7 linked regions of the Homo sapiens genome follow. The protein of the gene in region 2 purifies or fractionates together with the protein of the main gene of each other region. This does not show direct contact. Each region holds a gene or a part of one and is shown on either strand. Other genes may lie near its edges. The genes, in order: FLG2, NIPSNAP2, COX7B, WARS1, NAP1L1, NPEPPS and EHD4.

Region 1 (4,854 bases), on a different chromosome or scaffold from region 2:
ACCACATCCAGAGGGCTGACCTCCTGAGACACAGCCATGGCCTTGTCCTCCCTTAATTCCTGACTGACAGCCTGACTGAATATAGCTAAATTGATTTCCTTGCCCTCCAAATCTATGTGACTGACAAGAACTTGAAGCATTTTGTGGCCTTCCACACCCACTTGAATTGCTATAACCACATGCATGACTTCGCCTCCCACTGTCTCCTGAACCTGAACAGCTAGACCCAAGCTTTTGTTCTCTAATTCTTGACTGAGTAGAGTTTGATTCATGCCCACTAGTCTCCAATCCACATGACAGACCACCATGACCTTTCCTTTCCCAACTGTTTGATCCAGATCCAGATTCATACTCCTCCCCAGATTCCCTAGAAGGGCTAATGTGTGACTTGTTTATTCTTTCTCTCAGTTCTACAGAGCTGGAACCATGTCTGTCTTTGCCACCACTCCATGAATGACCACAGCTGGACCTGTGGTATCTTTTCTGAGATCCCTCTTGGTTCCCAGAGCTGGATAAATTACCTTGTCTTCCTAGCCTCCTGGAGTTGGACCCATGTCTACATTTCACAGTTCCCCTTGAGTGCCCAGAACTATATCCATGCTCCTCTCCCTCACTCCAACTTGAATGTCTGTAACCTGATTTATGTCCTGGTGTATCCTCTTCATCCTCTTCTGTTTCACTTTCTTCTTCTTGGTGTCGGTGACCACGCCTATGCTTCTTTGACCCTGAAGCTTTGCAGTATTCTTTGCTGAGGACCTTGTTGCAGGCCATAGTCAGCTTGAATATCATCAAAAGAAACTCAGTAAAGTCCAATCTTCTGTCATGATCTCGATCCAGCATATGCATGATGACATCCACTGTGTCTGGATCATCTGGGTTCTGTATATGAGTGACACACCAAGGGAGACCTGGTCAGCCTAACCTGCATACTCAACTAACACATTTAAATAGCGCTGTGAAATTATGGATGTTTGACATGATGTAGTTTTAGTCCAATAAAGGATTACTTTAGGTTAATAGAACCCAGTAAATGTTAAGGGTTAATAGAAAATAAAGACTACTGGGATCCTCAGAAGAAGACATTTCAAGGATTTAGGCTAAAGGATTAAGTGCTTAGGTAAGGCCTACAGGAAGGAGTGGAATAAACTAAGTTCAGTAACTGGTATTTCTAAGTTTTACATAAATTGTAACTATTACATGTTAATATCTTCCATGTTGGAATTTATCATCTATTATTTTGAAGTTAATAACTGAGTCTTTTTTTTTTTTTTGAGATGGAGTCTTGCTCTGTAGCCCAGGCTGGAGTGCAGTGGTGCGATCTCTGCTCACTGCAAGCTCTGCCTCCCAGGTTCACGCCATTCTCCTGCCTCAGCCTCCCGAGTAGCTGGGACTACAGGGGCATGCAACCACGCCCGGCTAATTTTTTGTATTTTTAGTAGAGATGGGGTTTCACCGTATTAGCCAGGATGGTCTTGATCTCCTTACCTTGTGATTCACCCACTTCGGCCTCCCAAAGTGCTGGGATTACAGGCATGAGCCACCGCGCCTAGCTGAGTCCTTTTTAAGTAGATGGAATAAAATGCTGGCATTTTATTTTTGATTCTTAATCATGGCTATTTTGTCAACTCCCTATGTAGATGATTTCCCTTTCTATACTTTTTTTTCCATTTGATAGGATAATTTATTAATTCGTGTCCTAGTATAATTTTATTTTCTGCTTTTTCTAAGGAAAAGCCTGGGTGTATGAGAAAGTCTGAGAGTCTATGAGGTAGGAGTGCATAGGTGGAAAAGTGAGGACGAAACATTCACTTTCTTTAAAATATCTGCTGCTTTAACAGACTTTCTGGCATCCCCAAAATACCACTCATAGAGTTTGCTTAGAGTTCACTGGGGCTGTGCACTTTTTAGCTGATCTGGGTCATACAACAGAGCTTGTACAGGACTCCAGCAGCCTTCAGTTCTGGCACATGGCTCTCACCTTCAGAACTGGATGAAGCTCTTTCTCCAGAAGTTCCTTTAGTTCACCCTTGCTCAGTGTGCCACACTCCCCATCTTGCTTGGTGTATTTGTAGAAAACATCAATTACGGTGACAACACTTCTCAAGAGGTCGGTCATCTTTTTGCAAGTTTAAGTGAACCTGGACACAGAAAAACAAAGAACCCTATTATTCATATTCTCTCCTTTTATCAGCAATTTTCATTTTAATAATAACCAGCATGATTTTTTTAACCTCTTGTTTTTTAAATCTCAAAACGTAAGAATGGGCCAGGGATGATACAACCCCGTTTAACACAATGAAAATTAACTTTGTTAACTTTGAGTTACTTTTCTGTGATCAAGTCTTGGCATGTTACTGGTTCAACTGAGAATAGACCTCAAGTCTCTATATTTCCTGTCATGGGTAAGTATAGTCTCTACATAGTATCTCTACACTTTGAGTGTGTTGGCATTCTGGGTGTTGTTCTAAGGCTTCCAAAATTTCCAGAACCAGCCAGACACCATTGCCTCAATCTCTCTTTCTAGTTTCACTGCTTTTCTTGAGTCAAAAGTGACAGACCTTCCACCATGCACATCTGTTTATCCTCTGGGCACCAGAAGCTAAACTGGACCCTTAAGGCCTTCAGCAAATTAAAAATGGGCAAAGGGGCTCAAAATAGCTTGGTGTTTCATAGGCATGAGACAGTAGAACTCAGTAGAGCTTAGGAACTCTCTTAATGTCAAGCACTTGACCAAACACTGTTTTCTTTAATTAATCAAGAAGAAGAGCTCAGCAATGCAGGCAGCAGTTTAACTAGTGGATAATTAGATCTTGGAGCTCTGGGAACCAACACTGAATAAGGAAGGGACTCTGCAACAGACCCAGCTGCCTCCCAGTTTGAGCTGGACAGCCCAGAAAAGAGGGCATGGAAAAAGACTCGGAACAGACTGTGGAATGGCCTAGAGGAAGGTGAACTTTTACTTGCATTATTCTTCTCCATAAAAATGAACTTAACTACAAAAAGGCCCCAGAATAAACTAAACTAACCAAACAAATAAGCAAACAAAAAGAAAAGAAAATGAAAGAAAGAAACAAAAAAGAAAAGAAAGGCAAAATATACATGAACTCTGCCTTAGCTTATATCCCTAGACTTCTACTATGGACAACACCAAATATTCATAAATGTAGCTGGATGAATTTTCTCTCACCTGGTTCACCAAAGGAACAAGTAGGATAAAGCCTGATGCAGCTTGCAGGGTGACGATGGATTGGGATAATGACCCTTATATAGCTTATAGTGATTATAGTGAATGAGGTGATTCATTTTCCATCAAACCTAACTCCACCTCTACATATTTACCTTCCTCCTTCACATTGTTATCTACAGATGATTGCAGAAAGGCTAGTACCAGCCCCACCTTCCAGTACGAGGACATGGTTGCAAGATACCTTTTTTTTCAGGGTCATATACATGTGAAAAGCACAGACTTTGTTTTAGAGGACTCATGTTATACATTTCTTTTAACTAGTACCCACAGAAAGTAGCAGAGTGTAAGATACTTGGAAGGTGCACAATAAATGCTTATTTAATTGAAAATGAACCTGAGCCACTAGGTTCATCTAATTCATGTCTTTTTTGTAATAATAAAAAGTGACATTTATTGAGAATTTACTATGTGCTAAATACTTTAAACAAACCATCTCAATCTTTAAAAAATCTGCACTTTTAGTTATGGGTACATAGTTGTATATAATTGTTGGGTACATGTGATGTTTTGATATGGGCATACCATGTGTAATGATCAAATTACAGTAATTGGGGTATCCAGCACCTCAAGCATTTCTTTGTAGTAGGAACATTCTAATTCTACTATTTTAGTTATTTAAAAATATACAATAAATAGTTAACTATAGTTACCATATTATGTTACCAAATACTAGATCTTATCACCTCATTTAATCTTCACAACCTTCATACGAGATATGTATTTATTATCCCATTTTATAGAGACAGGTTCTGGAAGCATAAGGATCTTCTCCAAGGTCATAGCTAGTAGGCAGAGAAACCAGAAGTTGAACCTGTATCTACCTTATTGCAATTGCTGTTTACCATTATACTAACTTACCTCTGTGTATTTATCATATATAACTATCATGCAAAAATTATGCACCATTTTAGGAGTGTAAGGCCCACTCAAACGCAAATAATATAAAAAAGTAACATACAGAGTGCTGTTAGGAAGAGAGGAAACATTCTCTGACCTTGTGAAGGCTCATTTCTAGGCTAGAAAAGTGTAATTGGCTATATATAAAAATAATGTTTTCAGATATGTTCAGGGTGAATTTAGAGTGAGCTTTCTTCCAGCACTCTGCGATCCACTGGTAGTCTGGCATGTTTAGGGCCTGGACCCTTGGGAAAATGTTCACTTATGTACAGAAAGTATATCAAATACACTTGAGGGTAACAAAAATAATCAGAGAGCTGTAAGTCTTAAGCATGGAGAGCCAATTCTGCTGTACTTTGCTACCAGGTGATAATGATGATGATGAGGAGGATAGCAGCTACCATTAAGTGCTAAGTGCTTACTATCTTCTATACATGGTAGGTTTACATGCTTATCTATTTATTCCTCAAAATAACCCCATTTTATAGATAAGGTAATAAAAGCATAGAGCAATGTAAACATTTGTTACAAATCGCAGCTAGTTAGTAGCAGCACTAGAACAGATACACATGCTAGCCGATGCTAAAGCCTAGCACTTAACCATATATATTCTACATATATGGAGTCAATAAACTCCTATCTGGGCATTGCTTTGGGCCAGTCATCATATCTTATTCATTCCACCATCTAGGCAGCACCTAGAGCTTGGT
Region 2 (3,468 bases):
CGCTTGAAACCGGGAGGCGGAGGTTGCAGTGAGCCGAGATCGCGTCACTGCACTCCAGCCTGGCGACAGAACAAGACTCCGTCTCAAAAAAAAAAAAAAAAAAAAAAAAAACAGATCCTACCTGGATATTTGTTTTATTTGTGGGAGGTAGGAAAAGTCCATACTGTGAGGAGAAATGGTGATTTCTCAAACGTTCGCGTAAGCAGCAAAATCAAATACAATTATATAATTATAACATGTAATTATATGTTATATAATCTCTTGAACTGAAAGACAAGGTAACACCTACTTTCTAGGACAAATTACTCTTTTATTTTCTTGGTAGTATAGGGGCTGAGATACACTTTTTTTTTTTTGAGACGGATTCTTGCTCTGTCACCCAGGCTGGAGTGCAGTGGCACAATCTCCACCTCCCAGGTTCAAGCGATTCTCCTGCCTCAGTCTCTCAAATGGAGACAGGTTTCATCATGTTCGTCAGGCTGGTCTCGAACTCCCGACCTCAGGTGATCTGCCCACCTCAGCCTCCCAAAGTGCTGGGATTACAGGCGTGAGCCACTGCGCCCGGCCTGAAATATACTTGCCATGCAACATGGCTGGTACTGATTACCTCTACCAATGCCACTGGGTTACATTCAGCCAACTGTTTTCTTTTAAAAATCAAGCAAACAGGGTTTCATAATATACTTATGTATGTGCACATGCATGTATTATGTACCCAGATACATACTGTACATACAGGAAGTTTAATTTATCTAATTTCAAAATCACTCTTTAATTGATGTATTAAGTTCTGATTTGGGATACTAACAATTCTGATGGAAAAGGAAAGCTTAGAAAAAAATTTTATTTGTGTAATAAGTTTTCAGAGAATATAGAAATCTACAAAAACAGGTAATGATGTAAAATTTACAACATCCAAGGGTCTGAAAACTGTAACAGATGATATACCTATTTGAAAGCATGGATATTCTACTTTATTGAAAAAAAGTCATGTAAGTATTAGAGAAAAATTGACTATCTCCCTTCCCCCCACAACCTGATAACTCACTATCCTAGCAACATACTATTACAAAACCCACCTATTAGTGTCAGGGTGAAAGAACATGATTGAAACAGTAAGACAAAAAGCATATTTCATGGCTGTTAAGAGATTACCTGTGTAATATACCAATTCCTCCCAGCCATGTTTGTGCCATGCTGCATTCCGTATGTCTTCCCTGGTCTGAAGATCCCTGTAAGCTTAAAAATAACCACACAGAGAAGTAAGACTTAAAACACATACACTGCATTCCACCCATACATCCGTTAAAGTCTTGCTTCACCTGGACATCTAGTTTTCTCAGGGACTACTTCAGGTGTGTAATATACTGGGCTGGGGAAATTCTGAGCAAAATTATATTAGGCCACGTGGGAAAAGCAAACTTTCAGTCTTTTTTTTTTTTTTTTCTGAGACAAGGTCACTCTGTCAACCAGCCTGGAGCGCAATGGCACGATGATGTTTCACCACGGCCTTGACCTCCTAGGCTCAAGTGATCCTCCCACCTCAGCCTGCTGAATAGCTGGGACTACAGGAATGTGCTACCACATTGGCTAATTTTTGTATTTTTTTGTGCCCAGTCAGATGTCAAACTCCTGGGCTCAAATCATCAAAACGCCTCAGTCTCCCAAAGTGCTAGAATTACAGGGGTGAGCCACCACGCCTGGCCCATTCTTAAGTTAAAAAAATTATTTGTTTGTTTGTTTGAGATGGGGTCTCACTATGTTGCCCGAGCTGGTCTCAAACACCTGGACTCAAGTGATCCTCCCGACTCAGCCTCCAAAACTGCTGGGAATCGAGGCGTGAGCCACCACATCCAGACACAATTCCCTCTTAAGCTTTACAATCTAGTGAATCTAAGATATACCTTTATAAACCAAGTGAAATTCTCCAATAACATGTTAAATTCATGACCAGAAACTGTGAGACCACAGATGAGCAATGTCAGATCAATTTTACTCAACATTTATCTCGCACTACACTGATCTGGGCAGGGAGCGTGTTCCAGCGGTGAAGCCCCAGGATATGAGGCAGGCGAGGTCAGTTGTGGAGAGTGCCGTGGCCCATACAAGGACACAGTGTATAGGGGAGCAGGGCAAGCAATGGGAGAGCTGTGGGAAAGGTGCAAGCTGACCAGGTGGGTGTTGAAGTTGAAAAGGACATCACTGACGTAGGAATAGGAAGAAAGGCGCTTCAGGTGGAGGGGGATCACCTGTGTCATGGTACAATTCACAGGTATCTCATCCAGATGCCTTGGTTTCTTTTCTTTTTTTTTTTTTTTTGAGACGGAGTCTTGCTCTGTTGCCCAAGTTGGAATGCAGTGGTGCGATCTCGGCTCACTGCAACCTCCGCCTCTTGAGTTCAATCGATTCTTCTGCCTCAGCATCTTGTGTACCTGGGATTACAGGCATGCGCCTCCATGCCTAATTTTCTGTATTTTTAGTACAGATGAGGTTTCACCATGTTGGTCAGGCTGGTCTCTTAACTCCTGACCTCAGATGATCCACCTGCCTCGGCCTCCCAAAGTGCTGGGATTATAGGCGTGAACCACTGTGCCCAGCCAATATCTTGTTAATTACATTTTTTTTTGAGACAGGGTCTTGCTCTATTTGCCCAGACTGGAGTGCAGTGGCACAGTCATAGCTCACTGCAGCCTCAAACTCCTGGCCTCAAGCAATCATCTTCAACTTGCTGTTGCTCTGTGAAGCCTTGAGTCCTCCCGACAGGGCAGAGACAAGAGGTCTGTCCTGCATTCCCCACAGCCTCTATGAGAGCTCCGCCATTCACACTCTGGTGCCTGCCTGTTTGCCATTCCAGGATCCTGCATCTGGGAGGCCCTCTCCGGGCAGCTACAGGTGCTGATGTGAATGGAGCATGCACCTGGCTTGACCTCTGCCCAACAGCCAAAGGGATGGAACCTTCCTCCATCCAATCCTGCCCTTCTAGCACCTGTGCTTATTCACATGCCTGGGAGGGTTGCACACCATATACAGCCGCAACGGTAATAACCAGCACCACACAAGGCTCTGGGGGCTCAGGAGGAGTGATGATGTTCACTACTGGGGAAGGGTGACATCTGGGGCAGGCCTGGAAAAATACCAAAGATGGTGCCAAACAAAAGTGTGTGGGGATGGAAATGGTGAGGGGGTCAATGTCATGAGACAGTGGAACCACGTCTACAAAGGCAGGCAGTGAGTATGTGCAGGAAGCTGCTGCTCTGGGTAAAATGCAGGCCTGCCTCTGTCGAGGAAGTAAGCAGTCAGTCTACAAAGAAAGGCTGGGACCACTCTGTGGAAGGCACTCTTGACTTCCCTGGCCTCCTTCTTCCATGGCTGCTTGCTTTACCCCTTATTCCTTTCCCCATCATCCCTACTCACTTTCAGCTCACTAATGCCATCAATCTATGGACTTTCACTGTTGACCTCGCTAGT
Region 3 (3,625 bases), on a different chromosome or scaffold from region 2:
TCATAAGCATTTAGTGTGCTTTAATTTGAAGTTCATTTGAGTTCATTTGCCCTTGTATGTTGTAAGTTGTTGGGCTCTATTGAGTAAACTTTAATGAAAATTTAAGTCATAAGTATTCAAATTAATCAATGGGAGCCAAAATTTCAGGGGTTATGCAAATACCACTTTGTAGAGAATGTTACTGACATCATTCATTCTTTGCTTTTTTCCCCCAACACTATTATGAAAACTCTCAGACATACTGAAGAGTTGGAAGAATCGTATGAACACCCATATACCCACCACAAAGATTCTACAGTTAACATTTTGCTATTTGTTTTATCATGTATTTGTCCATCTGTCAATTCATCTTATTTTTGTTGCATTTCAAAGTACACTGCTTTAATAGCTACAATATGTTTTAACATTTTATTGAACTACATAATACTGTAAAATTAACTTCCTTGGCTTTCCTGATTGGCAGTATCAATCACATATGTTTTCTTTACCTGACAATTGATAATATGCTTCTGTATTCTTTTTTCGTTTTCCTGTAAGTTCGAAGCATTCAGCAAACAATGGCAAGGCAGAGCCACCAGAAACGTACACCTGATTTTCATGACAAATACGGTAATGCTGTATTAGCTAGTGGAGCCACTTTCTGTATTGTTACATGGACATATGTAAGTACTATTGATTAATAATTTCTGTTTCAGATGTTTTTCATTCTCAGTCTATGCATTCAAAGTGTCTTAACATAGTAGTGTACATATCTAGTTAGGAGGGACTTGAGAGATTGTGTAATCTAATTACCCACACAGTGCAGGGGATTTTTTCCCCCCAGCATTCATCCATCTTCTGTTCTTAACATTCCCAGTAATAAATTGCTTACTGGATCACAAGGCAGCCCTTTCCATCTTGTGTAGCTGTTTTTTTTGTTTTTGTTTTTTTTTTTTTTTAAGAAGAAGTCTTGCTGTGTCCCCCAGGCTGGAGTGCAGTGGTGCGATCTTGGCTCACTGCAACCTCTGCCTCCTGGGTTCAAGCACTTCTTCTGCCTCAGGCTCCCAAGTAGCTGGGACCACAGGTGTGTGCCACCAGGCCTGGCTATTTTTTTTTTTTTTTTTTTTTGAGACGGAGTCTTGCTCTGTTGCCCAGGCTGGAGTGCAGTGGCGCGATCTCGGCTCACTGCAACCTCTGCCTCCTGGGTTCAAGTGATTCTCCTGTCTCAGCCTCCCAGGTAGCGGGATTACAGGCGCCCTCCAGTACGCCTGGCAGATTTTTGTATTTTTAGTAGAGACGGGGTTTCACCATGTTAGTTAGGCTGGTCTTGAACTCCTGACCTCAGGTGATCCGCCCGCCTTGGTTTCCCAAAGTGCTAGGATTACAGGTGTGAGCCACTGTGCCCAGCCTTGTGTAGCTGTTAAAAGGATCATATGGTGAGTTAAAATCTGCCTTTTTCCTATGCTACCCATTGTTCATTGAAGCACAGAAATTCTGACCCACTTCCATATAACAGCCATCAGATAATAGAAAATTGCTATCATATCTCCTCAATTTTCTTTTTCAAATTAAACATCCTTAGTTCTATCAGTAATTTTTTTGTTCATGGTTTCCAGGATTTTTACTGTCTTGGATCGCCTTCCTGGACATAACTTCACTTAACAATTTTTCTTTTAAAATTTTACACTCAGAACTTAGCACAGTATTCGTGACAGATGAGATGTAATGTATCTTTTTATATTTTAGTTTCTTTACATCTTACATTTAACAATCTATCTTTCAGTCACTGTTACTTACTGGCTAAAAGTAGGAGTCCTGAAGTCTGTGTTTTTTTTTTTTGTTTTGTTTTTTGTTTTTTTTTTTTTTGAGATGGAATCTTGCTCTGTCGCCCAGGCTGGAGTGCAGTGGCGCGATCTCTGCTCACTGCAAACTCCGCCTCCCGGGTTCACGCCATCCTCCTGCCTCAGCCTTCCGAGTAGCTGGGACTACAGGTGCCCACCACCATGCCCGGCTAATTTTTTGTATTTTTAGTAGAGATGGGGTTTCACCGTGTTAGCCAGGATGGTCTCGATCTCCTGACCTCGTGATCCACCCACCTCGGCCTCCCAAAGTGCTGGGATTACAAGCGTGAGCCACTGCGCCCGGCCCGAAGTCTTAATAAATGCATAAGTTGGTTTAAAAAGATACAAATTAATCCTTAATGTAATAAACTTTATTTAAATAAATAGGCCTTTTTAGTTTTTGTTTTGATCTTCCTGAAATCAAATATTAAGATGTGTGCCTAGGCTGGGCATGGTGGCTCACGCCTGTAGTCCTAGCACTTTGGGAGGCCCTGGCGGGTGGATCACCTGAGGTCAGGAGTTTGGTACTAGCATGGTGAAACCCCATCTCTACTAAAAATACAAAAATTAGCCGGGCGTGGTGGTGGGCACCTGTAGTCCCAGCTACTTGGGAGGCTGAGGCAGGAGAATCGCCTGAAGTTGGAGGGGGTGGAGGTTGCAGTGAGTTGAGATCGTGCCACTGTACTCTAGCCTGGGCGATAAAGCGAGACTGTCTCAAAAAAAAAAAAAGTCTCAAAAAAAAAATTAAAGTGTGCTTAATTAGAAGGATAAACAGATGTTGAACAAATGTTTGATCAGAGGAGCTTTTGGAGGTGAAATGTTCCTTAGTGATACAGAGAATATAAAATACTCTGGCAGTTACTTAGGTAGTTGTGGTTGAGGGAATCAGTGTATTGAGTGGGTAGTATAGAAATGTGAAGTATAAATTTGAATTAAATAAAATTTAAAAATTCATTTCCTTGGTGATACTAGTCATATTCCAGGTGGCTAGTAGCCACATGTAGCTAGTGACTACTGTTTTTAACAGTGAAGATCTAGAACATTTCCTTCAGCTCAAGAAGTTCTATTGAACAACAGGACTGCTCTAGAAAATTAGGACAGCAATCAGGTTTGGCCTATATGGAGGGTATTAGATCCCAGGTGAGTTTCTGTGTATTTTTAACCTATAGAACAGAATATCTGTCATTTTCAAGAAATAGTCTCCGAGAGAGTGTACTCTGGTTTAAACACGTAACTGACAGCATTTTAATTCTTACAGGTAGCAACACAAGTCGGAATAGAATGGAACCTGTCCCCTGTTGGCAGAGTTACCCCAAAGGAATGGAGGAATCAGTAATCATCCCAGCTGGTGTAATAATGAATTGTTTAAAAAACAGCTCATAATTGATGCCAAATTAAAGCACTGTGTACCCATTAAGATATGGCATTATTGAAGAAATAAAGTACATTTGAAACCTTCATTGTAGGTTTTGTTTCTTTGTAAATGAAACTAAGCTTGATCACTTTAGCCTTTATGTTAATATTAAAGTCAAATGCTGTGCAGCTTCTTAAATAGGTTTTTTTTTTTTTTTTTTTTTTTTTTTGGGACGAAGTCTCACTTTGTCCCCCAGGCTGGAGTGCAGTGGCACCATCTCAGCTCACTGCGACCTCTGCCTCCTGAGTTCAAGTGATTCTCCTGTCTCAGCCTCCCGAGTAGCCAGAACTACAGGCACATGCCATGACGCCCAGCTAATTTTTTTTTTTTTTGAGACGGAGTCTCACTCTGTTGCCCAGGCTGGAATGCAATGGCGTGATCTCGGCTCCTG
Region 4 (4,979 bases), on a different chromosome or scaffold from region 2:
ACTGGCCATAGCCAGCCAGGTGAGCAGGGGAGGGCAGGGGTGGGGCCCAGGCCAGCAGGAGTCGAGACCGGGAGAGGAAGCCTACTTGAGGTCATGGTGCACCCGGGTACCTGAGTGGGACTCGAGCCCAGGCCTCCAGCCTCCAGGGTGGGAACCGTAGTTCCCTCATTTGTAAAATGGTCCCTCTGTATGTGTGTGGAAAGCACCAAGAGTCAGGACAGACTCGCTGTATCAGAGTCACCCTATGGCCTTGGACAAGTCATGTTCTCCTCTCCTAAGCCTCAGTTTCCCTACTTGCAAAATAAGGATGGGCCGGTAGAATGAGCCCAGGGCTCCCTTGCAGCTCGGCCTCTGCCCTGGGCCTCATGTGAATGGGGCCCGACCTGGCTCCCAGCCTGTGCTCCCCGTCACTACACAGCACCACTAAGCACCCCACGGCCAGCCCCTCCTCTGAAAAGCGAGGACAACCTCTGCTTGCATTCTCCATCAGCTGCTGGAAATGAGAAATGTGGTGTGAGAGGGAGCCCGCACCAGGATGCTGCTAAGGGCTCTCCCAGCACAAGCCCATTCCTGGGAGCTGTGGCACAACACCATGGGGTTCCTGGGACTGTGCGCTTTCATCCCCAAATTTTGACTCCAGCAGACTCAAGGTCATCCACAGAAGGGTGAGGGGAGGGGTCTCTGCTCCCTCCTCAGACCTCCCAGACAGAGCACAATGACAAGAGCAGGAGCCAAGGAAGTTTATTTACTCTACTGGGTGACAGGAGGGCAGAGTGCTCCAGAGGAGACCCAGATACATCAACCAAGGACTTCCCTGAGATTTGGCTTTGCTCTTCCAGGCCTGCACATGCTGCGTGATGAAATGAGGCCTGCCTAGACATCTGTGAGGGCCTCGAGGGCTGCTGCCTCGACTTTCTCCCTAGCTAAGTCCACCCGTCCAGGGACACAGCCAGGGCACTGCTCTGTGCTGACTTCCACTGCAGCCAAGGGTCAAAATGAAGCATCTGCGGAGGCCAGGACTCCTTGGCATCGGACACAGTCAGGGGAAAAGCCACCCTGACTCTGCAGGACAGAGGGTCTAGGGTCATTTGGCAGGAGAACACTGGTGTGCCAAGGGAAGCGAGCATGATTTCTGGAGTGGACTACATGCATGGTCTGGAGTTCAGTAAACTGGAAAGTTTCACCCCCAAGTCTTAATTTAATCAAAATTGCTGAACTCTGTTCAATCTTCATTGTTAAAAGCAGCTTTAAAGCTGGGTGATTTCTTAGTCAAATGTATAACGAAGCTTTTACTTATCAATTTCTTTTTGGGAGGGGGCATGGGCTGAAATACATCTTGTGCTCAATAAACCTCCCCACATCAATATTTCAAAGCACTTTCTAGGTTACAATAATGACATTTCAATTCCATATACGCATACATAGAATATATATTTTTAAACAGAGTGGGTCTTAAGAGTATACTTGGAACCCTCGGAGTCCTCCATGGACAAGAACAGGGTGGCCCATGGACTTCCAGCCAAAGGCTCCACTGTGGGGCTGCTTTGGGGAGAGACTCACAGCTGGACTTCTCTATCCGACCATGCAATGTTAGCCAGCACCAATTACCCACAATGCTTTGCCCATAAGAGATAGAAATAATGGAACTCACAGGAAGAAACAGTATTGATAACATACACAGGCTTACAGAGGCCAGGCCCAGTAATTACCATGAGACAGAAGCCTACAGGTGGCGGTGCTTTGACTGGGCTGGGATTATTGATACATTACTGATACATCACTTCTTTTATAAGCATATGTAAAACGAGTGCTACTGAAAGTCGAAGGACAGCTTCCGGGGAGTCATGAACTCTTTCACTATCTCATCCGTGACCTCCTTGCGCCGGGCCTGGTGCTCTGCGATCAAGGGCTGCAGAACCTCTATGAGTGCCTTCTTGAGCTCACCGGTGAGCATGGCTCCGCTGGTGTAATCCTGCCCGGAGGGAGACAGCCACGTGAGAGATGGCTCCACATGTCCTGAGTGGCTCCTTCCTGCCTCGGGCACCAGCTCAGCCCACACCACCCATGCAGAGCCTGGCACGTGGGTGGCACTCAGAAGTGAGATCTGTTGTTACCACAACAATAACCTATACCTTCAGCTACACTTTTCCTAAAACGGCTAGAAACCTGGCTCTGACGATAGCCATGACTTGGCCTCTCACAGTGAAAGGGCCAATGGGGAGGGCAGTCCCCACCCCTACCGATGCTAGGGGCCATTCCCCCAGGCACTAAACAACAACAATTCCTGGCAGCCTTATGGCTTCTGTAAAATCTTGCTAATTTTTTTTTTTTTGAGATGGAGTCTCACTCTGTTGCCAGGTTGGAGTGCAGTGGCATGATCTCAGCTCACTGCAACCTCCGCCTCCCAGGTTCAAGTGATTCTCCTGCCTCAGCCTCCTGAGTAGCTGGGATTACAGGTGCCTGCCACCACGCCTGGCTAATTTTTGTATTTTTAGTAGAGATGGGATTTCACCATATTGGCCAGGCTGGTCTCGATCTCCTGACCTCGTGATCCACTCCCCCCACCTGCCTCGGCCTCCCAAAGTGCTAGGATTACAGGCGTGAGCCACTGCGCCCAGCCAAATCTTGCTAATTTTTTCTTTTTCTGATTGTACTGCATGCTCATTAAGCAAATTTAATAAAGTACCCAAACCACAAAGCAGCAGCAAAGTAAAGAAAAATCACCTACAAATTGCCCACCTGAAAAATGCCCAGAGGTGGGTCTCCCGCTAACATTTGGTAGATTTTCTTCACATTTCTTTCCCTGTGCATTTCATTTAAACATAGTTAACTCCTCCCTGAGTTTTCATTTGGTATCCTTTTTTCACTATCATAGGCATATTTTCCTGTGTCACTAAAACTTTTTTTTTTTTAAAAGAAATGAGGGTCTTGGCTGGACGCGGTGGTCACAGCTGTAATCCAAGCACTTTGGGAGGCCAAGGCGGGTGGATCACGAGGTCGGGAGGTCGAGACCATCTTGAATAAGACGGTAAAACCCTGTCTCTACTAAAAATACAAAAAAATTAGCCGGGCATGGTGGCGGGTGCCTGTAGTCCCAGCTACTCGGGAGGCTGAGGCAGGAGAATGGTGTGAACCCGGGAGGCAGAGCTTGCAGTGAGCCGAGATTGCGCCACTGCACTCCAGCCTGGGTGACAGAGCAGGACTCTGTCTCAAAAAAAAAAAAAAAAGAAAGAAATGAGGGTCTTGCTATGTCGCCCAGGCTGGATTTGAACTCCTGGGCTCAAGGGATCCTCCTGTCTCAGCTTCCCAAGTAGCAGGGGCTACAGATGTGTGCCACCATGCCCTGCATATGAACACTTAAAATAGTTCATGCCCGCATAATAATCCACCCTGTAACAATTCTAATTTAACGTTTCCTCTGTTGTACTGAGTCTGTGTTGAACTTTTTGCTATTATCATTTTTAACATCTTTGTGTGGAAAGCTTTCTCTTACTCAGGATTATTTCCTTGGAAAAAATCTAAGAATGAGAAAACCTGAGGAGAAGCTCTGAACATTTTTGGGCTCTTTGTACCCAGTACCAAACTGCTTCCTGAGGCTGTGCTGATAAACACTCTGCTCACTTGAGTGTGCCTTGAAGCATCTGCTTCATAATCACTGAAAATAGTCAATGGCAACACAAAAGCCCCTACTAATTCTATACTCAACTGTCTTAGCTTTGATCACGTTAACTTACATTTCTCTGATGACTAATAAAGCAAGACTGTTTTGGGTGGCTCCTAAATGAATAGTGATTTGTATCTGCTCTTTCGAGATTTGTTCATGAGGCTTCTGAGCCCAGGCCTAAAAACCATGAGGGCGAGTCTACTCAGTTTTCACCTTGTTTCAGTTGAGCACCTCCGACCAAGCCTTCATGCCTGGCTGTTGGAGCCTTCCAGGCCCCATGGGCAGGAGTGGGTGGCAGAAGGCGGCTGTGGGCCCTTGGGGTTCCCTGCTCACCTTCCTGATCTGCTCGAGCTTGTCGTCGTCCTCGAGGAAGAAGGTCAGGTACATGAAAGACACGTCCACATCACAGTTGCCCCCAAACTGCCTGTGCTCCTCGATGGTGTCTCTCCCTCCAGAAAACGCATGCTTATTGACCTGCACCAGAAGAGGACACAGACACGCTCCTCAGTCCTGCTCATCCTGTGCCTGGACACTGGCTAGAAGCCCAAGTGTGGAAGTCAGAGGTGTGAGTGCTGTCAGATTCTGGACCCGGGAAAGGCCAAGGCGCACAGCCGGTTGGGGGCGCACAGCCAGTGGGGGACCCACTGCTGTTCTTCCTGTGAGGCTTGGGTGTGAGCTACTGTGGGGCTCACTGCAGGAGAGGTGGGGGCAGATGAGCTTTGAACCCCCCATCCTCGGAGACACAGGAGAATAGAGTTGGGAAAGCCAAGGCACTGATTGAACTGAAACCTGGGACAGACAAGTTCCTCAGGTAACAAGCGTCAGAAAAAGGATGGGTAAGGCCAGACATGGTAGCTTGTGCCAGTAATCTCAGCATTTTGGGAGGCTGAGGGGGGAGGATCGATTGAGGCCAGGAGGTCAAGACCAGTCTGGGTAACTTAGTGAGCCCTCCTCTCTGCCAAAAAAAAAAAAAAAAAGGAATTAGCTGGTGTGGTGACGTGCGCCTGTAGTCCTAGCGACTCGGGAGGCTGAGGTGGAAGGATCGCTCAGACTCAGGAGTTTGAGGTTATAGTGGACTGTGATTGCATCACTGCACGCCAGCCTCGGCGACAGAGCAAGACCTTGTTTCTAAAATAATAAAAACTAAAAAAATAAATAAATAAAAGAAAAAGGATGAGTAAGTCATCCTCAGAGTAAGGGAGATGGCAGGAAGGGCAGCCTCTCTTAGGGATAGGTACTGCAGTGTTAATGGGGACAGGAAAGCAGTGGCCAGCCCCACACAGAAAGCATAACAAGAAGGCACAGGGTAAGGCAG
Region 5 (4,421 bases), on a different chromosome or scaffold from region 2:
GCCTGGCCAACATGGCGAAACCCCATCTTTACTAAAAGTACAAAAAATTAGTCAGGCATGGTGGCGCACGCCTGTTATCCAGTTACTGGGAGAAGGAGGCAGAAGAATTGCTTGAACCCAGGAGGTGGAGGTTGCAATAAGCCGAGACTGCACTCCAGCCTGGGCAACAGAGACTCAAAAAAACTATAAAAATAGGCTGGGCACAGTGGCTCAGTGGTTCAAGCCCATAATCCCAACAGTTTGGGAGGCTGAGGTGCGAAGATTGCTTGAAGCCAGGAGTCTAAGACCAGCCTAGGCAAGAAGACTCTGCCTCTACAAAAAAAAGTAGATTAAGCTGGGCATAGTAGCTTCAGATAGTCCTAGCAACTTGGGAGGCTGAGGTGGGAGAATAGCTTGGGCCCAGGAATGAGCTGCAGTGAGCCAAGATCATGCCAGTGTACTCCAGCCTGGGCAACACAGCAAGTCCCTGTCTCTTAAACAAAAAAACTATAAAATGTAAGGAAATAATGACTTTTTGAGTACAGATGGTGGTGCCAGGTTGAATAACAGTTCATCTGCATTATCATTCTTACAAAAAGGAAAAATATTTCCTAGGTATAAAAATACAACTGATGCTCTAGGGAGGCCCTGGCCGGGGAAACGAGTTGCATTTGTCGGCTCAGCTGGCAACAGTGGCGGGAGCAGAGCTGGCGGGGCCTGTGCAACTGCCTGGGTTTGTGAAATGGCTGCTGACGTTTCCGATTCCAATAGGGCTGACTGCAAAGGAGACCCAAGGAACAGAGCCAAGTTAGATGCTGATTACCTACTTTGAGTCCTTTATTGTGGAGTCTGTTCATTACCAATAGAGTACTGTGAATATATGCCTGATGTTGCTAAATGTAGACAATGATTAGAGAAGAATTTTCCAAATGAATATGCAAAACTTACTGTGGAAAATTCACCCAAACAAGAAGCTGGAATCTGTCAAGGTCAAGGAACAGCAGGGGAAGAAGAGGAGAAGAAAAAACAGAAGAGAGGTGGAAGGGGTCAAATAAAACAAAAAAACAAAGACGGTACCACAAAAGGTTACTATAGCCAAAATTCCCAGAGCAAAGAAATATGTGACAAGGGTTGTGGCCTTGTAACTTTTGAAATTGATCTTAAATCACACAAAGATTTTTTGCTCAAAAATTCTCCTGTGGTGCCTCAGTAACAGAGGAGGATGAAATTATCATTCAAGGAGACTTTACAGATGACATAATTGAGGTCATTCAGGAAAAACAGACAGAAGTAGATGATGACAGCATCGAAGATCTTGGAGAAGAAGTGAATTTGAAAATTTGTCTGTAGTTAATGGCCTGAACTGACAGTAGATATGGCCAAAGGGAGAGAGGCCTACATATATATATATATATATATATATATATATGTATTCTACAGTAAAACTGTAGACTGCCTTCGTTCTTGGCATTTTCCCTGTTCTGTACAAGGCTGCTTATTTTTTTATTGCCAAAGTCAAATAAACAGGAGAGACTGTCATGCTCATACATGAACAGAATTTAGTCAAATAAAAAATTTTGGTTATTTGGTACTTTTTTTTTTTTTTTTTGAGACGGAGTCTCACACTGTCGCCTGGGCTGGAGCGCAGTGGTGCGATCTCGGCTCACTGCAACCTCGACTTCCCGAGTTCAAGTGATTCTCCTGCCTGAGCCTCCCGAGTAGGTGGGATTAGAGGCACCCGCCTCCACACCCAGCTAATATTTTGTATTTTTAGTAGAGATGGGATTTCACCATGTTGGCCAGGCTGGTCTCGAACTCCTGACCTAGTGATTGGCCCACCTAGGCCTCCCAAAGTGCTGGGATTACAGGCATGAGCCACTGCGCCTGGCCTTTCTCTTTCTCTCTTTTTATTTTTTGAAAAACCCGGTAGACTTTGCGGTGACCATTTTTGTTGATTATTTTACTGATCTAAAGCTGAGTGATTTTTTAAAAGAATTTGAATTTGGCTTCCTCACCAATAATATGTCTCCTTGCTTCTCTGATGTGATAGTTTTGAGATGGGTGAGAATCTAATATATCTGTGGTTGAATTTGCTTTGCTGTTATCAAGTCCACCCTATGGGCACAATAACATACTGTTGGTAGGAGTTGTTGGAGCTATTCTGGAGATTATTTGGTAAAGTATACTAAAAGCCTTAAAACCACGTATGTGCACTGTTTGAACCAGTAAGCCACTTCTTTGAAATTAGAAGACATTAGAAGAAACAATAAGCCTTGCAATAAAACTTATGGATGAAAGTATTCATCACAATATGATTTATAATAAAAAATTGCAAATGTTATAAGTGAACAATTGGAAAATGGTTAAGGAAGTGATGGTGCACTGTGTGGTATGTTTATGTTTAAAGATGTGGTATGCATATGTTTAAAGAATCATATTTTCTAAGATTATTTGGAAACATGTTTGGTAATGTCAAGTGGGGGCACCCCAGATACATTTTAGACATTTAATCATCATCGTTCTGAGAGGAAGGCCATTCAGAGATGCTAGAGGTTCTTATTCTGGATATAAATTACATGAGTAAAATTCTACTAACCAATTAAAAATAATGTACAACCATGTTCAATATACAGTCCTGGAAATAGCAATTATGTCTTTTCACAAGAGAAAATGACAGTTTTAATGCTCCATCAGATGAATTCGAACTTTAAGTCAGGTGCTGCAAATTGGAAATAAGACTTGTGGTGTTTTAAACTGCTGTGGACACTTAAGAAACTTAGAACCCATGAAACCGCTGCTTATTGCCATGCAAATTACAATCTTGAATGACTGTTTTTTAAAAATAAAGTAATAGAAAAACGTGTAATAAAGACGTAAAATTAAAAAATGAAAAAATACAACTGGTTATATAATATTGTACTCCATCATTAAATGCTAACATTTCTGACAAGTCCTAAGATTTTATCATCTTAAAAACATACCAAAATAAAGTTGGTACTAACCGAAATCTCATCTTCTTCATCTGGTTTCCATTCACATTCTTCTTCCGTAGGTTCATAAATTGCATTAATAATTTCAAATCGCTAAAATGATTTAAAAAAAAAAGGCTGTATAAAAACACTGGCATCCAAGCTAAAACCAGTGGTTTCTCACTAAGAAGTCTTACAAATTTAACAAATGCATACCACAACTTTAACTGCTATTATTGATAGTTCCTCCAAGTGCTGCCTCTAATAACAATTTCAATGAGAGTTCTAAAGATTAACCTCTTCCAAGTCTGCTTATGTTTCTAGAATTCGTCTTCTAGAATGTTAAATTAAACAAAGTAGGAGAAAGCATTACCTTATCAAATAGAGGCTGATAGAGAACAGCATACTTCCTTTCAAGATCGTGAACTTCCTCATAGAATTTGGCTTCTATCTGTGCACATTTAACTTGCAGGTTTTTGAGAGCATTCACTCGTCTTTTAACTACCCTAGGCAGGCTGAAAGGTTAGAAATCAGTTATATAGCATCAGAGTAAAATGGAAGTCACACTTCTTTTGTCATACTGAAACTGAAGCATTGGAGTTAGTGAATGACAGGTTTTTTATCTGAAGCAAAAGGTAGATTCAAAGTAAATAAAAATCAAATAGATATAAATACATTGATCCACTGGCTATATTTCAAAAGTAGAAATGTAACTGGGTAAATTGATAAACAAAATGTAAATCATATTGTCAACCCTAAATCTTTACCCAAGTTAAGTGTTGGACTTGTCATTGCTGAAGTCATGGACAGACCATCTTAATTCTGAGAACAATGATTACTTGGATTTTTCTTTTACATATATCTCACCCATACAAGTTATTAGGAAAAAGGAGGGGAGCATAGACATATCAGGAAAAAGGACAAGATTCCACACACCATTATTTTTTTAGTCTCCATATTTAATTAGGAATTAGTAATTACATTATTAAATACAAGTGTAACATACTATAAAGAGGAGACATGTATTTTTAAAATAACAGCTTTAGGGCCAGGTGCTATGGCTCACAACTGTAGTCCCAGCACCTTGGGAAGCCGAGGCAGGTGGATTCCTTTAGCCCAAAAACTCAAGACCAGCCTGGGCAACATGACAAAACCCTGTCCTTACAAAAAATACAAAAATTAGCTGGGTGTGGTGGTGCATGCCTGTGGTCCCAGCCACTTGGAAGGCTAAGATGAGAGCATCACCTGAGCCTGGGATGTCGAGGCTGAATTGAGCAAGATTGCACCACCACTGCACTCCAGCCTGGCTGACAGAATGAGACCCTGTCTCAAAAATAAATAACAGCTTTGATGAGATAAAGTTCATACACCATACAATGAACTGTGAAGCACTATTTTGTTAAAATTTTATTTTAGGTTTAGGGGTGTATGTGAAGGTTTGCTATACAGATTATTTTATCACCCAAGTATTAA
Region 6 (3,755 bases), on a different chromosome or scaffold from region 2:
CTAGAGTGCAATGAAACGATCATGGCTCATCACAGCCTCAACCTTCTGGGCTCAAGTAAACCTCCCACCTTAACTTCCTGGGTAGCTGGGACCACAAGCGTGCACTCCCAGGCCAAATTGTTTTTTCCTTTTTGTAGAGATGGGGTCCTACCATGTTGCCCAGACTGGTCTTGAACTCTTGAACTCAAGCAATCCTCCCACCTCAGCCTCCCAAAATGCTGGAATTACAGGAATCCAACATTTTTAATACAGTAAACCAAACAATTTCTAAGTTTACAATTTATCACAATGCTTAATGATTAAAAGTTGAATAAACTTTTCTAATGCAGTACACCTGGTTTCACAGAAAACAAAGCAACTCTTAAACACCAGCTGGCAAAATGATAGGGCTTTTCCTTTGAATTAGTCACCACAGGTGTGAAAGACAGAATGACTAATCCATCTGATTAAACATAGACCTTTTAGAAATCAATAACCTTATTTACACAGATGACAATTGCTACTGTTCCAAGGCTCCTAATCATGGTTCAGTTCTCAGGGCCTCAAGTCTTTTTCCATTCCATCGCAGAGTAGTACCAACATTTATACACCAGAAACCTGGGGATTATCCTGGCTTGTTTTTCTTCCTCTCCCAGATATGCTCACAACAGAGAAGCCAATCAATAAATATTGTTGAACTAAATGGTTAACAAATTCAAGCCCCTGAATCTCCATTATTCCATCTCCTCCACTACTGCCACTACCCTACTGTAAGCTATTCTATCATTCTTGCTAGGAGAGTTAGCTTCCCAACATCTTCTCTTCCCCATTCCAAACTATTATCCACATTGCAGCCAGACTGAAATTTTTATAACACAAATCAGATCAAGGCACTGCCTTGTTTATAAACCATTCGAAGGCTTTCCATTTTTAGGACTTTTTTTTTTTTTTTTTTTTTTGAGACAGGAGTCTCGCTCTGTCACCCAGGCTGGAGTGCAATGGCACGATCTCAGCTCACTGCAACCTCCACCTCCCGGGCTCAAGCAATTCTCCTGCCTCAGCCTCCCGAGTAGCTGGGATTAGAGGCGTGCACCACCATGTCCAGCTAATTTGGGGTTTCACCATGTTGCCCGGGCTGGTCTTGAAGTCCTGACCTCAGGTGATCCACCCACCTCGGCCTCCCAAAGTGCTGAGATTACAGATGTGAGCTACCATGCCTGGCCATTTTTAGGAAATTCTTAATATGGCCTATACAGCCCTGCATGATGTCTTTCTCTAAACAAAAACACAGAGATGCTACAGTACATTATCCCAACACTATAATTACAACCAGGTTATTGTTTTTACTTACTAGACTGAAAAGTGAAGAGTAAACAGTATTTTCCTTACCTTAACCTCTCCAGCCATTTTATCAACTGCAAATCCCTCAACTGATAGCTGCAAAACAATGGTTTTAAACAGTAAGTGAAACCAAGAGGCTGAGAACAAACTTCCATTTACCCTAAAAATAAATCATTCTGTTCTCTGCCAACTTCAGTCTGTTATAAAGGATGTGTGATGGGAGATGGAGAAGTCCTTAAATAAAGCCAGTAACTATTTAAGGAAACTTTTTTTTTTTTGAGACGGAGTTTCACACTTGTTGCCCAGGCTGGAGTGCAATGACCTCATCTCGGCTCACCACAACCTCTGCCTCCCAGGTTCAAGCGATTCTCCTGCCTCAGCCTCCCAAGTAGCTGGGATTACAGGCACACACCACCACGCTCAGCTAATTTTTGTATTTTTAGTAGGGACAGGATTTCACCATGTTGGCCAGGATAGTCTCGAACTCCCGACCTCAGGTGATCTGCCCACCTCGGCGTCCCAAAGTGCTGGTATTACAGGCGTGAGCCACTGCACCTGGCCACAGGAAACATTTAAAGAGCAAAGACCACAATGTATGGGTGTAGTGAATCATGGATGTCACTAAATAATATCCATGATTAGCAAGCTACTCAAAGTTTTTCACATACCTTTATTAGTCTGGATATTAAGAATCCTCCCTGGTATCGGTTATAAAGTTCTTCCCAGTTGTCCTTTATGAATTTCCAAGCAGCTTTCCTACCATGCTTGCTGCCTCCAGCTACTCCACCAATTACCGATACAGTGTCCTGTGGACGTACCTCTTCCTAAAAAAAGAAAGAGAGCTAAAAGTCTAGTGTATCAAAAACATATTCTGGTACCAGAAAGTGCACCATACTGTGACACTGAAGTAATCACACTGAAGACACTTATTCCTTGTTTTAGGAATAACTGGAACCAGAAGTTCTCAGCAAAGAAGATAATGTTTAAGCTAAAGATAACCAAAATGAGAATGAGGTACTGAGACAGGTTCAGACAGACAGACTGCTCAACAGATACTTGCTTAGGAGCCTATAGGTTTAAGAAAGGAAGAGACACAAAGTAAGCAAAGGCATAAGCCAGTTTCCCAGTTTTCAAGAGTCCCTGTCCTCATAGTTTCCATTCTGGAGAGACAATTTGTTTACTCTCCCAACTATTCTGATTCTCGCCACTAGTGGGAGAAAAACAGAAGTCAGTAACAAAAACTCAAGCCAGTTACTCTGGAAAAGGAAGCTTTAGTTAGGGTTAAGGCAGCTCAAGAGGATCAGAGCTGAATCAGAGACACTTCTCAGAGATGGGTAACGATTCACTTCTAAATGCAGTTTTCACCGTAACTTACTGAAAGTGCAAACGTGAGGACTTTTTGAATCAGGTCAGGCAAAAGAGTAGCGCCAAGGACTCTTTCGATTCGGTTTTTCTCTTCTTGCATATCTGCTTGTTTATGAAGCTACAGGAAAAAAGATAAAGATAGGAATAGTTAACTCTCCCTTGGATGTTCTGCATATGATTATATGAGCTTCTTCCCCAGTAAGGTAAAACTTAGGTTCTATATTCTCACTAGGTAAGAATGGCAGGGCATTATATTAAAGAAAGAGAATACTTTTCAAGATGCTTTGGGCCAGGTGCGGTGGTTCACACCTGTAATCCCAGCACTTTGGGAGGCCGAGGCGGGTGGATCACCTGAGGTCAAGAGTTCGAGATCAGCCTGGCCAACATGGTGAAACCCTGTTTCTACTAAAAATACAAAAAAAAAAAATTAGCCGGGCGTGGTGGTGCCCACCTGTAATCCCAGCTACTTGGGAGGCCGAGGCGGGAGAATCGCTTGAACCTGGGAGGTTGCAGTGAGCTGAGATCGTGCCACTGCACTCCAGTTTGGGCAAGAGAGCGAGACTCTGTCTCAAAAATAAAAGAAAAAAAAAATGATGCTTTGGCACTAAATTTGTCATCTGCTGTTACAGTAAGTAAATCACTAGATGTAAATGCTACCAGATGAACAGCCTGTCATTAGTTCAGACCAGTTTAACATCAAGATCTAAGAGGTAAAATCTATCATAGCCAAATTCTTTACATCATTGATATCTGGCTAATGTTCTGTTTTAGAAGAACAAACTAATCATTAGTGTTCTTATACCAGATCATCAAATTAATTTATAATAGTGAAAAATTGAAAATGAATACTGTACTTATAAAAATGCATTATTGAAAGTTATATTTTAAGAATATATCATAAACATGTTCTTATATTTAAGTGAAGAAAGCAGACAAAGCAGAATTATCCTAAAAAATATATATATATATATGGCTGGGCACAGTGGTTCACGCCTGTAATCCTAGCACTTTGGAAGGCTGAGGTGGAGGTTGCAGTGAGCCCATATCGTACCACTGCACTCCAGTCTGGA
Region 7 (5,046 bases), on a different chromosome or scaffold from region 2:
CACCCGCCTCTGGCTAAACTCAGGGTAGCAGTGTGGGCTGGGGTGTGTGTGTGTGGGTGTCTTCCAGCGGCCCTGGAGCCTCTGAAGCGACAGCCCGCTCCTCAGGGAGGCGCTCCTGGCAGCCACAGCCCACAGCAGGACAGCCGCTCAGCGCGCCCTTGAGAGCTGGGCTAGGGATGAGTCACACTTGAACCGCCTGGGCCCACTGCAGGCAGTCAGGGGTGACGCTGAGAGGTGCCGTGGTCTCGGGTGGGGTGCGGCTTCCTGCGTCTGAGAGACGCTTCCTCTCCTGCTGTCCTCTCCCTGCCAGGCCCCTTCTGCAGCGGCTGGCTTCCAGACACCCTGCGTCCCTCCCTTGCTCGCAGCAGTTGCTGTGGCGGTCCTCCCGTGCACCCCCCCTTCTGCCCTCACTGCCCCTGGGGGTCCTCATCACGGACCCCCTAACTCGGCATCCTGGACACCACCACCCCGCACCTTTCCACAGTGCAGCTCTGCTCGTGCCTGTGAAGCCTCCCACAGCCTGGGAAGGAAAATCCAGACTTGCCAGACCTTGCCTCAGCCAGGCCTTGGAAGCCTGCCAGCTTACCTAACCAGGCTAGTCTGCCCCCCTCACTCTGGGTGCTCTCCATGGGCCACTCACCATTTCCTGAGCAGGACCAGAGCTCTCCTGCCCCAAGGCTGGGCTTCAGCTGCTCTTTCAGCTTTGAACGTCCTTTCCCATTCTCCATCATCCACATTCACCTATCCTGCCTGCCCCAGTTAAAATCCTGTTTCTTCTAGGAAGTCCCTCATCCCACCCGCTTACCCCAGGGAGACTGAGCTTGTTCCTTCTCCTAGTAAGACCCTCAGCCCATGGAGTCCTGTGTGATGTTGTGAGCGTGGGAGGACAGACTGAACTGCTCGGCCCGTGGAGTCCTGTGTGATGTTGTGAGCGGGGAGGACAGACTGAACTGCGTGGTGCTTCGCACATAGACCTCAACAGGGATTGGCATTTTGAAGCTGTTGGCGGGGGCTGTGGACTGCTTTTCTTCCTTTCTAGCTCAACGGCAGCTAAAGCCACTGCATACAATGCAAGGACTGGCTCCTGTTTGGCCACGACTGATTGCAGCCCCTGGTGAAATGAGAACCCTGTGGGTCGGAACAAAGTTTGGATTATTTATGTTGCAAGTAACTAAAATCTCAAGTGAAACTGGTTTAAACATTATATTTTTATTATTTATTTATTTATATTTAATTCTTTTTTAGAGACAGGGTCTTCTTAGGTTGCCCAGGCTGGTCTTGAACTCCTGGCCTCAACGATCTTCCCACTTCAGCCTCCTGCATTGCTGGGATTATAGGTGTGAGCCACCATGCCTGGCTTACACAGTATAAAGGGAATGCATTGGCCCACACAGTGGAAAAAAATATCTAGTAGGAATAGGAAGGACTTCAGGTGAGGTTTGATCCAGCAGCTCAAATGTTGTCACCACAGGCCTGGATTCCTCTGGCCTTTCTCAAGGTCTCTTTCATTTTCATGCTCCACAAGATGGCTTCTGCCAGGCTGACCTCCCTCCCCTGACCCCAGCAGCTCTGGACACCCCTCTCAGTGCCATTTATATTGTTGCATCAATAGGCTCATTTCTATATACTGCAAGGTTCAGAGAAGACAGAGTATCTCTCTCAAGAGTTCTAACATAAGTCTGGGGGTCCTGGCTCTCATAGGCTTGAACAGGGCCACATGTCCATTCCTGAGCCAATATTTGTGACCAAGGGGATGTGGTCAATCTCATCCAAACCTCACTTGAAGTGAGGGTGGGAGGAGGAGTGCTCTGCAAGGAGACTGTAGGTCTGGACCACCAAAAAGGTAGATGGGTTGGTGGGAAAAGCCAGATGCCTACTATGGTAGTGGGCGGGGGGAGGGCACACTGGCAAGGTACAGCAAGAGGCAGGGGCAGTGCTGGACAGGCAGGGGCTCCTCCCTAGCACGACTGGAGAAAGGACTCCTGTGAAGCGGTCACCTCCATGAGTCCCTCCTGTCCTGGCTTCCAACCACTCTGAAGTGGGGCTTTTGTCCACAGACCTGGCCTCTGCTGCCTACCCTCTTCTGTCCCCACCTGATGGGGCCGCTTTCCTTCTGAAGCGGCTGCATTTTGGGTTTCTCTCCACAGGAAGAGTTGGGGCTCACAGGCACACCCTCTCCCTAACTCTTCTCCCCCGGTTCAACCTGGATCCAGGGATCCACACTCTGCTCCGAGAGGCCAGCACGCAGCCACTGGAAAATGAGCCAGTGGGAGAGGGCAGCTCCATGTTTATTGATCAGCAGACTATGTCTTTTTGTTTGAAACTTCTAAATAAGATTACAAAAAGAAAAAAAATAGAAGCATTGCGTATTAACTGCATTGGTTAACCAACATTGGAACCCAATACTCTTGTATTAGGCCCGCATTTACCTGAGTAAACTCAGTGGTTTTCTGTCCTAAGCATGCTTGCCTGCTACATCCCATGGAGAAAATAAACAGTGAAACACTTTCCTCATCTTCAAGGCAATTGTCTCAGGCATCCTCCAGGCATCATGAAGGAGGGTGAGCGAGGGTGCGAGGTGGAAAGGTCCAGGCCGCGGCTGTGACTCCCGCGGGTGAACCACAGCTCCACAGCCCCAAATCCAAAGATGCTCTTGCTGCAGCACGACAAGTGTTCAAAAGAGAACCAGGCCCAGCCCGGAGAAAGGAAAGCCAAAAGCCAACTGAATGAATGACCCTCCCCCAGAAGAGCAACCCTGCCCCCAGGCCATCCAAGTGCGGTGAGTTGAGAAATGAATTGACAGACGCTGCAGGGCTGGAGCAGGAGGCGGAAGCAGGTTGGAAGGCTGTTGTGTGCCACCCCTCCCTGGGAGCTGGGGAGATTCCCAAGTCTTAGTGCAGTGTTTCTCTACAAACGGGGTCAGGAGACCCTCACTGGCAGGCTGACAACTTGGAAGCAGACTGTGGGAGCAATAGGCTGGAGTTTTCATTTTCCCTTTAAACTCAAGACCGGAAGGTTTGTGTTATGCGATACCATATGCTGTGTAGAAAACAGGGCCTCAGCTTCTTAGATGTTGTAGTTCTAGAGTTTAGGTACTTCCACCCTCTCTCCTATACATAAACACTCTGTGGAAGAGGTTCTTTGAAAATTGGGGTGGTGCAGGAAGGGCAACGGTGATGGTGAGCAGGCCCCAGGGTCGGCCCTGCCGCCCTGCCGTGTGGGGTAGGGAGACAGCTGGTGGTGTGGACACATTCACAGAACTTTGTACTGGTCCTGGGAAGATACAAGTCCTCACTTGGTCGCCATCCCTCATATTTTCTAGTGTTTTCTTTTCCAGTCAACTTTTCTTGATGAATGACTGCATGTAAGAGGATATTAAGAAAAGTGGCCAAATGATTTCCTTTTTTTTTCCTTTCTCTCCAAGAACATTACCAGGTGCCAGCAGGGAAAGGACTCCGCTGCCTGACGCCTCTCCCACCTGAGAGCGCAGAGGTAGGGAGATCACAGTGCCTGAGAGGTTTTCCTCCACGGAGAAATCAGAGACCTCAACCTGCTGCCCTCTAAAGCAGCTTTCTGTATCCAGACAAAACTTACATATGTACACGTTGTTTTAAAACGACATACTCATGTGACACACATGTATATAAATTCATGTTTATATATGACAATTGAGGAGAGTTAAAGAACAAGATAATTCTGGATGGAAAAATCAGTTTGCCTGGGCATCTGTAAACCTTTGGGCAAGTGAATTCCCTCTTCTCTCTCAGTTCACCCTTTGGTGACCTCCACCGTGGCTGCAGACTTCAGGTGGTCCTCACGCATTCACAGAACTGTCTGCTTAGGTTACAGCACTTTGGGAGGCCGAGGTGGGTAGATCACGAGGTCAGGAGATCGAGACCATATTGACCAACATGGTAAAACCCCATCTCTACTAAAATACAAAAATTAGCCGGGCGTGGTGGCGGGTGCCTGTAGTCCCAGCTACTTGGGAGGCTGAGGCAGGGGAATCACTTGAACCTGGGAGGCGGAGGTTGCAGTGAACTGAGATTGCGCCACTGCACTCCAGCCTGGGTGACAGAGACTTCCTCTCAAAATAAAAATAAAAATAATAAAATAATAAATGGTTCTTTTCTATGCGTCTAATGAATTTAAGTGCTTGTTAAGACTAAAAACCATGTTATGCATTTCCTGCTCTTAAAACTAAATTATGTAGAAAGTAAGCTAGGGAGTGTAAGGGTAGGCATCTGGATATAAATGCTTCTCCCAAATCAAGATTTTCTCTTCAATCTGTGCCTTTGACCCTGTCACCAAAGGCAGGTGACAGAAAAAAAAAATTATGTGCCTTTTGGAAGACTCAGTGGGACGGTTCTGATTTCATTCACTTCTGGTGCCAGCAGGCCCCCATACCATGTGGCCATTGCTGTTTCGTGTCTCTTCCTGCATAAATAATGCAGAGAGGCCATGCAGGTATGCAATTTTCTGGAGATGAGGCAGGGAGATTTGCAAGGAAAAGTCACCTACCTCCCCAAGCTGGTGCCCACAGAGGGGGAGGCACCTCCACCTGACGCAGGTGTCTGAGCAGCAGTCCAGAGAGGTTTACTCAGGGGATTTGGGGAGCGCACACTCTGGAGCAGAAGTACAGGTATGTGCCCGAATCCTGCCTCGTGATGGGCATTCATGATACGAACCACACAGCCTTTAAAGAAAAGGTTTTATATGAAAGGTTCCATTTTGTTTCTGTATAAAGGCTTTTATCCTGTAAGGAAAAAAAAAAAACACAAAACCCTAGACATAATAAATGCCTGTTTTCTACAAAAACAATGTCTAACTCTGGGTGGACTGATCTCTTCTCAACAGCCCAGGGCAGGGCTGGTCCCTCATTCACCTGTGTCCACAGGGCCGAAGACACTGCACACACTAGGACAGGATTTGATTGAATTTAAATCCTGCCACCCACCAAGGAGACCTCGGGATATTTAATGTTTGAGGGCCACACTAAACGATCACTGCAGAGAACCACCTCTTTTCTTTACTGTAGTTTAAGTA

What was found.
Region 1: the proteins of NIPSNAP2 (region 2) and FLG2 purify together in Homo sapiens (affinity purification with mass spectrometry, with the first as the bait; one large-scale study listed by BioGRID). This does not show direct contact.
Region 3: the proteins of NIPSNAP2 (region 2) and COX7B fractionate together in Homo sapiens (co-fractionation; one large-scale study listed by BioGRID). This does not show direct contact.
Region 4: the proteins of NIPSNAP2 (region 2) and WARS1 purify together in Homo sapiens (affinity purification with mass spectrometry, with the first as the bait; one large-scale study listed by BioGRID). This does not show direct contact.
Region 5: the proteins of NIPSNAP2 (region 2) and NAP1L1 fractionate together in Homo sapiens (co-fractionation; one large-scale study listed by BioGRID). This does not show direct contact.
Region 6: the proteins of NIPSNAP2 (region 2) and NPEPPS purify together in Homo sapiens (affinity purification with mass spectrometry; one large-scale study listed by BioGRID and IntAct). This does not show direct contact.
Region 7: the proteins of NIPSNAP2 (region 2) and EHD4 purify together in Homo sapiens (affinity purification with mass spectrometry, with the first as the bait; one large-scale study listed by BioGRID). This does not show direct contact.

The regions. Positions count from the first base shown.
Region 1 is NC_000001.11:152,356,769-152,361,622, forward strand, and holds the start of FLG2 (filaggrin-2), read right to left. Parts: upstream 3,239-4,854; 5' UTR 3,188-3,238; intron 2,139-3,187; 5' UTR 2,117-2,138; coding exon 1,979-2,116; intron 880-1,978; coding exon 1-879. UniProt on the Homo sapiens protein: Essential for normal cell-cell adhesion in the cornified cell layers. Important for proper integrity and mechanical strength of the stratum corneum of the epidermis.
Region 2 is NC_000007.14:55,995,137-55,998,604, reverse strand, and holds part of NIPSNAP2 (protein NipSnap homolog 2), read right to left. Parts: intron 1,240-3,468; coding exon 1,156-1,239; intron 1-1,155. UniProt on the Homo sapiens protein: Protein involved in mitophagy by facilitating recruitment of the autophagy machinery required for clearance of damaged mitochondria.
Region 3 is NC_000023.11:77,902,106-77,905,730, forward strand, and holds part of COX7B (cytochrome c oxidase subunit 7B, mitochondrial precursor), read left to right. Parts: intron 1-537; coding exon 538-662; intron 663-3,078; coding exon 3,079-3,156; 3' UTR 3,157-3,625. UniProt on the Homo sapiens protein: Component of the cytochrome c oxidase, the last enzyme in the mitochondrial electron transport chain which drives oxidative phosphorylation.
Region 4 is NC_000014.9:100,333,065-100,338,043, forward strand, and holds the end of WARS1 (tryptophan--tRNA ligase, cytoplasmic), read right to left. Parts: intron 4,139-4,979; coding exon 3,998-4,138; intron 1,973-3,997; coding exon 1,811-1,972; 3' UTR 726-1,810; downstream 1-725. UniProt on the Homo sapiens protein: Catalyzes the attachment of tryptophan to tRNA(Trp) in a two-step reaction: tryptophan is first activated by ATP to form Trp-AMP and then transferred to the acceptor end of the tRNA(Trp).
Region 5 is NC_000012.12:76,056,817-76,061,237, forward strand, and holds part of NAP1L1 (nucleosome assembly protein 1-like 1), read right to left. Parts: intron 3,464-4,421; coding exon 3,322-3,463; intron 3,063-3,321; coding exon 2,982-3,062; intron 1-2,981. UniProt on the Homo sapiens protein: Histone chaperone that plays a role in the nuclear import of H2A-H2B and nucleosome assembly.
Region 6 is NC_000017.11:47,617,398-47,621,152, reverse strand, and holds part of NPEPPS (puromycin-sensitive aminopeptidase), read right to left. Parts: intron 2,804-3,755; coding exon 2,696-2,803; intron 2,145-2,695; coding exon 1,989-2,144; intron 1,876-1,988; coding exon of another isoform or gene 1,781-1,875; intron 1,417-1,780; coding exon 1,369-1,416; intron 1-1,368. UniProt on the Homo sapiens protein: Aminopeptidase with broad substrate specificity for several peptides. Involved in proteolytic events essential for cell growth and viability. May act as regulator of neuropeptide activity.
Region 7 is NC_000015.10:41,894,743-41,899,788, forward strand, and holds the end of EHD4 (EH domain-containing protein 4), read right to left. Parts: 3' UTR 1,191-5,046; downstream 1-1,190. UniProt on the Homo sapiens protein: ATP- and membrane-binding protein that probably controls membrane reorganization/tubulation upon ATP hydrolysis. Plays a role in early endosomal transport.